Linked DNA regions of Homo sapiens: region 2 is reported to be linked to region 1. Evidence: microRNA targets listed by miRTarBase, many of them from high-throughput screens and not tested one by one. Region 1 holds a microRNA gene; the other region holds the end of a gene's coding sequence.
What was found. Region 1 holds the annotated microRNA hsa-miR-6778-3p (UGCCUCCCUGACAUUCCACAG, at 2,982-3,002, opposite strand). A microRNA usually pairs through its seed, bases 2 to 8, with sites in the 3' UTR of a target mRNA and lowers its output. Matches are read on the target gene's strand: a 7mer-m8 pairs with bases 2 to 8, a 7mer-A1 pairs with bases 2 to 7 and ends in A, and an 8mer does both.

Region 1 (5,175 bases):
CGAGGTGCCGGGATTGCAGACGGAGTCTCGTTCACTCAGTGCTCAATGTTGCCCAGGCTGGAGTGCAGTGGTGTGATCTCGGCTCGCTACAACCTCCACCTCCCAGCCGCCTGCCTTGGCCTCCCAAAGTGCCGAGATTGCAGCCTCTGCCTGGCCGCCACCCCGTCTGGGAAGTGAGGAGCGTCTCTGCCTGGCCGCTCATCATCTGGGATGTGAGGAGCCCCTCTGCCTGGCTGCCCAGTCTGGGAAGTGAGGAGCGCCTCTTCCCGGCCGCCATCCCGTCTAGGAAGTGAGGAGCGTCTCTGCCCGGCCGCCCATCATCTGAGATGTGGGGAGCGCCTCTGCCCCGCCGCCCCGTCTGGGATGTGAGGAGCACCTCTGCCCGGCTGCAACCCCGTCTGGGAGGTGAGGAGGGTCTCTGCCCGGCTGCCCCATCTGAGAAGTGAGGAGCCCCTCCGCCTGGCAGTCGCCCCGTCTGGGAAGTGAGGAGCATCTCTGCCCGGCAGCTGCCCTGTCCGGCAGGTTGGGGGCAGCCCCCGCCCAGCCAGCCGCCCCGTCCGGGAGGGAGGTGGGGGGCAGCCCCCGCCTGGCCGTCACCCCTTCCAGGAGGTGGGGGGGCGCCTCTGCCCGGCCGCCCCTTCTGGGAAGTGAGGAGCCCCTCTGCCCGGCCGCCCCTTCTGGGAAGTGAGGAGCCCCTCTGCCCAGCCGCCACCCCGTCTGGGAGGTGTACCCAACAGCTCATTGAGAACAGGCCATGATGACGATGGCGGTTTTGTCGAATAGAAAAGGGGGAAATGTGGGGAAAAGATAGAGAAATCAGATTGTTGCTGTGTCTGTGTAGAAAGAAGTAGACATAGGAGATTCCATTTTGTTCTGTACTAAGAAAAATTCTTCTGTTAATCTATAACCTTACCCCCAACCCCGTGCTCTCTGAAACATGTGCTGTGTCCACTCAGGGTTAAATGGATTAAGGGTGGTGCAAGATGTGCTTTGTTAAACAGATGCTTGAAGGCGGCATGCTCATTAAGAGTCATCACCACTCCCTAATCTCAAGTACCCAGGGACACAAACACTGCGGAAAGCCGCAGGGTCCTCTGCCTAGGAAAACCAGAGACCCTTGTTCACTTGTTTATCTGCTGACCTTCCCTCCACTATTGTCCTATGACCCTGCCAAATCCCCCTCCACGAGAAACACCCAAGAATGATCAATAAATACTAAAAAAAAAAAAAAAAAAAAAAAAAAAAAAGAGTAATGTAGTCACCAGAGGGCTGGTGTCTCTGCTGATGCAAAGTTGGCGCATCAGGTCTCACCACAGGCTAAATGATGACCTGACCACTAACAGGCTTTCCCAGGTATGGGAATTCGAAAATAAGGGGAGTGCCTAGGGGTAGGTTATGAGGTAATGGAAAGAAAAACCTTCACTAAAATGATATTAATGTTTATACATCCATGTCTTCTAGTTTGACTACTATGAGTCTTTCTCTTTGAGAAACATGATGGATCACTGTAAGTTCACCAGAATAATGCAGCCTTGTGAGGCCTCCCAGTGGCCCCCAGCCAGCCATGCACCCTCCTTTCATTCAAACACCTGCCTCTCGAGTTCAGCAACCGGCGCCATCCTAACACATAGTGGTTGCTGATCCCCCTCCTATGTTCCTAGGACCTGGATGCACAAAAGTGAAGCAGGAGCTGTGGCTGACAGTCTCCTTCTGGGGATTCCTTTCTTTCTTTCTTTTTTTTTTTTTGAGACGGCATCTCGCTCTGTCGCCCAGGCTGGAGTACAGTGGCACAATCTCAGCTCACTGCAAGCTCCACCTCCCAGGCTCACGCCATTCTCCTGCCTTCGCCTCCTGAGTAGCTGGGACTACAGGTGCCCACCACCACACTCGGCTAATTTTTCGTGTTTTTAGTAGAGACGGGGTTTCACCGTGTTAGCCAGGATGGTCTTGATCTCCTGACCTCGTGATCTGCCCGCTTCGGCCTCCCAAAGTGCTGGGATTACAGGCGCGAGCCACCTCACCTGGCCGGGAATCCTTTCTGTAAAGCCTGTCACTGCTCCTTCCTAAGCAGCTCTTTAAGGGACTGGGATCTTAATATTTTCCAAGGATCCCAGGTCAGAGTTTTTCCCAGCTCCCTCAACTGAATCTGAACCCCCACAGGAGAAATGTAAACCATGGTACCCATCTGTACCCAACATTCGGGAGCTCACCTTTCCTGTAGAAGATCATGCCAGCTCGGCAGCCTCGCAGGGTCTTGTGAGTGGTGGTGGTCACCACATGGCAGTGTTCAAATGGGGAGGGCACCACGCCAGCCGCCACCAGCCCGCTGATGTGAGCCATGTCCGCCATGAGATACGCCCCGTTCTCATCTGCAATCTTCCGTAGCCGGGCATATTCCAGGTTTCGGGAGTAGCAGCTGGTTCCTGAGACAGGAAAGGTGACACAGCTGCATCAGAGATGTCCACCGGCCAGCTGAGTTGGCTTCACAGTGGCCTCTAGATGTGCAGATCTGAAAGCCCAGAGATTTCTTCCCTTAAAGTCTCAGAGCAAAAATGGAGAATGCCCTCAAAAAGCACCTCTGTGCTAAAGGCAACCACTCTAACTCTTCAACGTCTTGGTGGTTGAGATGGCCCCAACTACTATTGCCAGCGCAGTCAGGGCCTGACATTTCTAGATGCTTCTCTGAGAACAGTCTCACATCTTAATCTACATAGCACAAAAAGCAGCAAACACACATCTGTATCCTGAAAGAAACTAATATATGTAGACCCCAGAAACTCAGTTATCCAGGGCAGAAACTAGCAGTGGGCTCAACAGGGTGCGAACATCTTTCCATCCTCATTCTGTAAGAGGCACCAGGCTACTGGTGAACAAGGTGACTTTCCGCCCCGCGCATCACCTGCGATGATCAGCTTCGGGTGGAAGAGGCGTGCGTTCTCCTCCAGCTGGTCATAGTTGATGTAGCCAGTATCTGGGTTCACCTGTGGAATGTCAGGGAGGCAGGTTCAGGCTGCTTCCTCCAACCACACCTGCCTCCTGTCCTCCCACTTGAACTGGCTCCACCCACCATGACAAGAGGAATGATGTCCTAGATGAGGACTTGAGGGTGAGACAGGATGGATACTGGTGTGTTCAGCCTGCTCAACCAAGTATGGCTCACAGACCCAGGAGTCCCTGAGGAGTCCCAGGGTTGTAGTGAGCCCTGCTGCTGGGGCACTACCTGCTGAGAAGGAACCAAAAAGCACCTGCAGAATGAAACAAATGTGACGGGACCACACAATGGAAACCAAAATGGTTACCTTCAGGAACAAGACCAAAATGCCTGCTAATACTACTTCTATTCCAAGTATAATGAGGCAAGAAAAAGAAACAAAAGGCATAACGATTAGGAAAGAAGAAATTTAAAAACTGACATTACACACAGACAACACAATATACCTAGAAAATCAAGATGCTAGGGGCCAACTGTTAGAATAAGCAAATTTAGCAAGGTCACTGGATACAACATTGAAAAACAAGAAGTAGGGGCTGGGCGCGGTGGCTCACACCTGTAATCCCAGCACTTTGGGAGGCTGAGACGGGCAGATCATGAGGTCAGGAGATCGAGACCATCCTGGCTAACACGGTGAAACCCCGTCTCTACTAAAAATGCAAAAAATTAGCCAGATATGGTGGCGGGCGCCTGTAATCCCAGCTACTTGGGAGGCTGAGGCAGGAGAATGGCGTGAACCCGGGAGGTGGAGCTTGCAGTGAGCCGAGATTGTGCCACTGCACTCCAGCACTCCAGCCTGGGCAACAGAGCGAGACTCCATCTGAAAAAAAAAAAAAAAAAAAGCCAAAAAGTATATAAAAGCAAGAAAGATAGAAAATGAAATGTAAATAACAAAAACCATAAAAGGAAAATCATACCAAACCTTTACACAAAACATCATTGCGTTGTGTATTTTGTGTCACAAAATGCTTGACAAATTATAGTAATTAAGGCAGCACGCATTCATGGAAGGGCAGAGCATCTGGCTTAACCAGAAGCAGAACCACACACAACACAGGTCATTGGATCCATGCCAGTGGTGACGCTGCAGTGCAGTGGGGAGAGGATGACCTTTTCAATCAATGGCACTAGGTCAACTGGGCATCCATTTGGACAAAAATGTTATCTGGATGCCCGCCTCACCCACACAAATCAATTCCATATTCAGCAATCCCACTTGTGAATCTATATCTTAAGAACTTGAAATCAGTATGTCAAAGAGACATGTGCACTCCCATGTTCACTGCAGCACTATTCACAATAGCCAAGTTATGGAATAAAGCCATGTCCATCAACAGATGAATGGACAAAGGAAATGTGACACATATATATATAAACAATGTAATAATAATCAGTCTGAAAAAAGAAATTCTGTCATTTGCAACAACACCGATGAACTTGGAGGACCTTATGCTAAGTGAAATACGCCAGGCTCAGACAGACAAATACTGCATGATCTCACTTCTTTTTTGAGACAGAGTCTCACTCTGTCACCCAGGCTGGAGTGCGGTGGTGCCATCTCGGCTCATTGCAACCTCTACCTCCCAGGCTCAAGCGATTCTCCCACTCAGCCTGCTGAATAGCTGGGACCACAGGCAGTGCCACCACACCCGGCTAATTCTTATATTTTTGTAGAGATGGGGTTTCACCATGTTGCCCAGGCTGGTCTCGAACTCCTGGACTCAAGTGAGCCTCCTACCTCGACCTCCCAAAGTGCTGAGATTATAGGTGTGAGCCACCGCACCTGGCCATGTGATCTTACTTCTATGTGAAATCTAAAACAATCGAACTGCTGGGCGTGGTGGCTTATGCCTGCAGTTCCAGCACTTTGGGAGGCCGAGGCAGGTGGACCACCTGAGGACAGGAGTTTGAGACCAGCCTGGCCAACATGGTGAAACCCCGTCTCTACTAAACATTCACAAATTAGCCAGGCGTGGTGGCGTATGCCTGTAATCCCAGCTATTCGGGAGGCTGAGGCAGGAGAATCACTTGAACCCAGGAGGCGGAGGTTGCAGTGAGTCAAGATGGTGCCACTGCACTCCAGCCTGGGCGACAAAGTGAGACTCTGTCTCAAAAAAAAAAAATTAAAATTGAATAAATAAATAAATAAATAAAACAATCAAACTCACAGAAGCAGGGTAGAA
Region 2 (5,000 bases), not on the chromosome of region 1:
TCTCTTGTGCACCTCCTTGTGCCCACATGGAAGAGTGTCTCTTGGGCATATACCTGAGAGTAGGATTGCTGGGTCATATGTGCCTGTTTTAACTTTGCAAGAAAAATGCCACCGTGCCCTTCAATAGGGTGGACCAACCTATACTCCCATAGCAATGTGAGTTCTCATCTCTCTACGTCCTTGCCACACTTGGCATTTTTATTCTTTTTCTTTTGTGAGACAGCATCTCGCTCTGTTGCCCAGGCTGACACGGCCTCAGCTCACTGAAACCTCTGCCTCCTGGGTTCAAGTGATTCTCCTGCTTCAGCCTCCCAAGTAGCTGGGACTACAGGTGCATGGCACCATGTCTGGCTAATTTTTTTCCTGTATTTTTAGTAGAGACGGGGTTTCACCATATTGGCCAGGCTGGTCTCGAACTCCTGGCCTCAAGCAATCCAACCGCCTTGGCCTCCCAAAGTGCTGGGATTACAGATATGAGCCACCGTGACTGGCCAGCATTTTTATTCTTTTTAGACATTTGCCTATCTGAAGGGTATGGAATATCACTCTTATTGTAATTAGTGGTTCTCTGGTTACCAGTGAGGTTGAACACCTTTTCTGCAATAGGCTTGTAAGTGGTCTGCCTGCCCCCCATTGTGTGATATTGTGAGATAATAAAAAATATATATATTTGGTCTCTGACATAGACCCCCTGAAACTCTTGTAGATAGAGGCACTAGGAAAGTCTTTTGTTGTAATACTTGGTCTTTGACCCTGGTTCCTGACACAGAGCTCCTAAATGCTTTGGAATTTCCTGGGTGATGGGAGTCTTTTGTTCTAATGAGGTGACTCTTGGTGGGCTCTTGGACAGCTTCGGGATGGGGCCAGCTGCCAGGGGAACCAACCACATGATTAGAAGGTTGGAATTTTCAGGCCCACCCCCTAACCTCCAGGGAAGGGAGATGGGCTGATGGTTGAGTTGGTCACTAATGGCCAATGATTTAATCAATCATGACTATGTAATGAAGCCTTCATAAAAACCCCAGAAGAACTGGGTTTGGAGAGCCTCTGGATTGCTGAACATGTGGAGGTTCCTGAAGGGCTGCGTGCTCAGAGAGACAAAGAAACTCTGCACCCCTTTCCACATACCTTGCCCAATGCATCTCTTCACTGTTCATCTGTATCTTTTGTACTATCCTTTAGTAAGCAGGTAAACTCAAGAAGTGTGAGCCTGAGTTCTGTGAGCCTTCCTAGGAAATTAATTGAACCCAAAGAGGAGGTCGTGGGAACCCTAATTGATAGCTGTTCAGTCAGAAGTATACGTGACAACCTACTACTTGTGATTGGCATCTGAAGTCGGGGGCAATCCTGTGGTACTGGGCCTTTAACTTGTGGGATCTGATGCTACCTCCAGATAGATAGTGTCAGAAATGAATTATAGGACACCCAGTTGGTGGCCCCTGGAGAAATTGCTTGATGTGTAGGGAAAAGCCCCCTGACATCTGGTGTCAGAAGTGCTCTCTGTTGTATTGAGTGCGAGTAGAGAAAAAAGAAGTTTGTTTTTTCCATCAGATATTGGTGCCTCCAACACATGTTCCCCTCGGTGGCAAAGGTGGCCTTGTTAAAAGGCCATGTGATCCTATCAGTGAAGACATCCACAGATTCTTCTGTGACTGGCCAAAGAGCTAGGGACACTTTTTTTTTTTTTTTCACTCTGTCATCCAGGCTGGAGTGCAATGGCGCAATCTCGGCTCACTGCAACCTCTGCCTCCTGGGTTCAAGCAATTCTCCTGCCTCAGCCTCCCGAGTAGCTGGGACTATAGGTGTGCACCACCACACCTGGCTTATTTTTGTATTTTTAGTAAAGACAGGGCTTCACCATGTTGGCCAGGCTGGTCTCGAACTCCTGACTTCAGGCGATCCGCCCACCTTGGCCTCCTAAAGTGCTGGGATTACAGGTGTGAGCCACCGCTCCCGGCCTGAGCTAGAGACATCTAATAAGCTCTGCATGCCCATCTACTCTCACATACACAGGGACACAGGGAGAATAGCCATCAGACTGTCACCAACAGACAGAAGCAAAAGTAGGATTTAGAAGAAAAAAAGGGAGAAAAAAAATCCTGAGGGAAGAGACTATGGTTTAACTAACTGTGATGGAAGAAATTCAAATATTTGTTGGATAAACAAACAAACGAGTCACGTGTGCCTTGTATCACAAATTATCTGAGACAAGCAGGAGGAAGGATGGGCTGGCATGAGGTGTCCAGAAGCCAGCGCATCCATTCGGAGAGCTGACAGGGAAACATTTCTCCGTATTTAGAAATTTTATACTCAAGACTCCCACTGGCACTTCCCAGTGATTTTTAAAGACAGGTAATAAACGTGTCAACATTTATTGAGTATTTACCGTGTAGCCAGCACTGTTTTACAGGCACTACTCAATGTGGTCCGCACAATGACCCCACGAGAGAATTATTAACACTCATTTTAAGGATAAGGAAGGAACCAGAAGCACTGAGAGGTGAAGCCTTAGGTAACAAAGCCAGTAGGGGTGAGACCGGCATGGTGATTTCTTTAGGGGAGGGTATAAGAGTCCTTTGCGAAGAGAAACATTTCACTTTCAAATGCCTCAGCACCTGCTGCAATTCCAGGCTTTGGTTTGTACTTGTATCTCAGTCACAGTTATTTTATAGTTAGGCATATGAATTTAAAATGAAAGGGAGAAATACTAAAGATTTGAAATTTTAGTTATGTGTCACCTCAAGGGAAAGTTAATTATCATTTTTGTCGGCAACACCTACACACAAATTGTGACTCCAGTAATAAAATGAGAGCTTAGAAAAATAAGCACCCAGGGCTGATGAAAATAATGCATTTGTCTCAGGGCAGGGGCTGAATGTGAAGCCAACTGTTCTTAGAGAGAAACATGTCAATACTAAATCTTTTCACCAGCCTTTGATGGATGTGCTAATCTTCTCAGGTCAACATGGGCTCACCCTGGCAATGTACTGTAATAACTTATTTAAAAGGCAGCTGGCTTTTATAAATGACCTGCTCCATCAGCTTTTAGATTTCATTTTCAGAAATGTATTCCTTTATCAAATCAATATTTGCTGTATATAGTAAGAAATCAACTGTGCGTTTTCTGCAACAGAGGTGACTGCAGCAGTGACCAGGTTTGGGAATTATTGTTCTTTTTTTTTTTTCTTTTGAGATGGAGTCTCACTCTGTTGCCCAGGCTGGAGCTCGGCTCACTGCAAGCTCCGCCTCCTGGGTTCACGCCATTCTCCTGCCTCAGCCTCCCAAGTAGCTGGGACTACAGGTGCCCGCCACCACGCCCGGCTAATTTTTTGTATTTTTAGTAGAGATGGGGTTTCACCGTGTTAGCCAGGATGGTCTCGATCTCCTGATCTCGTGATCTGCCCACCTCAGCCTCCCAAAGTGCTGGGATTACAGGCATGAGCCACCGCGCCGGGCCGGAATTATTGTTCTTTGCTCTCAATTCTGTATGACATCTAAGCTCTGTAGACATAATGAGATAACAAGAATAAAAATGTCAGGCAGGTGATTTTCATTCCATGAGAGGTGCAGTTGGCAAACTACCATCTGTAGACCAAATCTGGCCTGCAGTCTGTTTTTGTTTTTGTTTTGAGACGGAGTCTTGCTCTTTCTCTAGGTTGGAGTGCAGTGGCGCGATCTCAGCTCACTGCAACCTCTGCCTCCTGGGTTCAAGCAATTCCCCTGCCTCAGTCTCCCACGTAGCTGGGATTACAGGCACACACCACCATGCCCGGCTCATTTTTTGTATTTTAGTAGCGACGGGTTTCATCATGTTGGCCAGGATGGTCTCCATCTCCTGACCTCGTGATCTGCCCACCTCGGCCTCCCAAAGTGCTGGGATTACAGGCATGAACCATTGCGCCCGGCCGCCTGTTTTTATAAATAAAGTTTTATTAGAACACAGCCACACCCATTTGTTTACTTACTGTCTACAGCTGCTTTCACACTACAAAGGGAGGGTTGAGTAGTCACAACACTGACCGTGTGGCTTGCAGTGCCAAAGATATTCACTCTCTGGCCCTTTATAGAACATGCATCCCTCTCCACTACAGGTAGTGGTATTTGTCTCACTACACACTTGGCTCATTTTTAGTGGGGGCTAATGGAGCTAGAGTCAGAGAGGATATCTGGTTTTTTAAAGGCATTTGTGTAGTTCAGACAGGTTAAAGACAAGAAAAGATAAAAAAGCAAAACACCAGGCAGTATCTCTAGGCAAGAACGTTAATGAATTGAACTGTTACCAACAACATAAAAAACCAGTATAGTATATGCAAAATTATTTTATGTCAGGAGAAAATTTATCATGTTGGCAACAGAACATGTCCTGCAGACCTCCAAGTGGCTGGCATAGTACATCCACCCCGTGACAGGCCCACTGGGACTGTGGTGAACATGCCTGTACCCCAGTACAAAGTCCCCTTTCCCTAAGAAATGTACAGAAGGAGAGATAAAGAGCGTGTACCCAAAAGGAAGAAGGAGAGGCTGGGTACCCTGTGCCCTGAGCTCAGAACTTCAGGGGGATGACCGGCCAGTACTTGGGCTGCTTTCGGTCACAGTGCTTGTCAAAGCTCAGCTGCACCGCGGCCTCCATGGCTTGGATCTTGGCAGCACTGTCCCCGTACAAACGCTTCATCTCGGCCTGGCGCCGCTCACCAGGCCTCTCAGTTGGGGCTTCTACCGACCGGCGGGTGTTGCAGTACAGGTCGTGGTCAGCGTTCACATAGCTGTCCAGGCGCTCTGCATCCAGCTGCTGCTGCCGCCCTGAGAACAAACACGAACGTGAACATGAACATAAACACACGTGTGTGCACTGCAGAAGGAGCCCAGTGAGTGCTGCTGCTGCTGGCCATGCCATCTGCAGCCCCCTAAGGTCCCTCATCTTTCCCTTTCCAACTGTGAAACCAGGCCCAAGTGTTCCAGATGAGATGCTTACCAGATTTTGAGGCAAGACCTGCAGATTA

Region 2: miRTarBase lists GEMIN8 as a target of hsa-miR-6778-3p. Seed matches in the 3' UTR shown: 7mer-m8 at 3,861-3,867, 7mer-A1 at 3,696-3,702, 7mer-m8 at 3,411-3,417 and 7mer-m8 at 3,277-3,283.

What each region holds. Positions count from the first base shown.
Region 1 is chr17:18,337,833-18,343,007 of GRCh38, forward strand. It overlaps MIR6778 (microRNA 6778), which reads right to left and starts at 3,054; the gene lies at 2,982-3,054. It overlaps SHMT1 (serine hydroxymethyltransferase 1), which reads right to left. Exons shown (of 12, transcript NM_004169.5): 6 at 2,900-2,981; 7 at 2,211-2,423.
Region 2 is chrX:14,004,370-14,009,369 of GRCh38, forward strand. GEMIN8 (gem nuclear organelle associated protein 8) reads right to left here. Exons shown (of 5, transcript NM_001042479.2): 5 at 2,357-4,800. The coding sequence ends at 4,544. Among named protein-coding and RNA genes, the nearest start is that of GEMIN8, 23 kb to the right of the region's middle.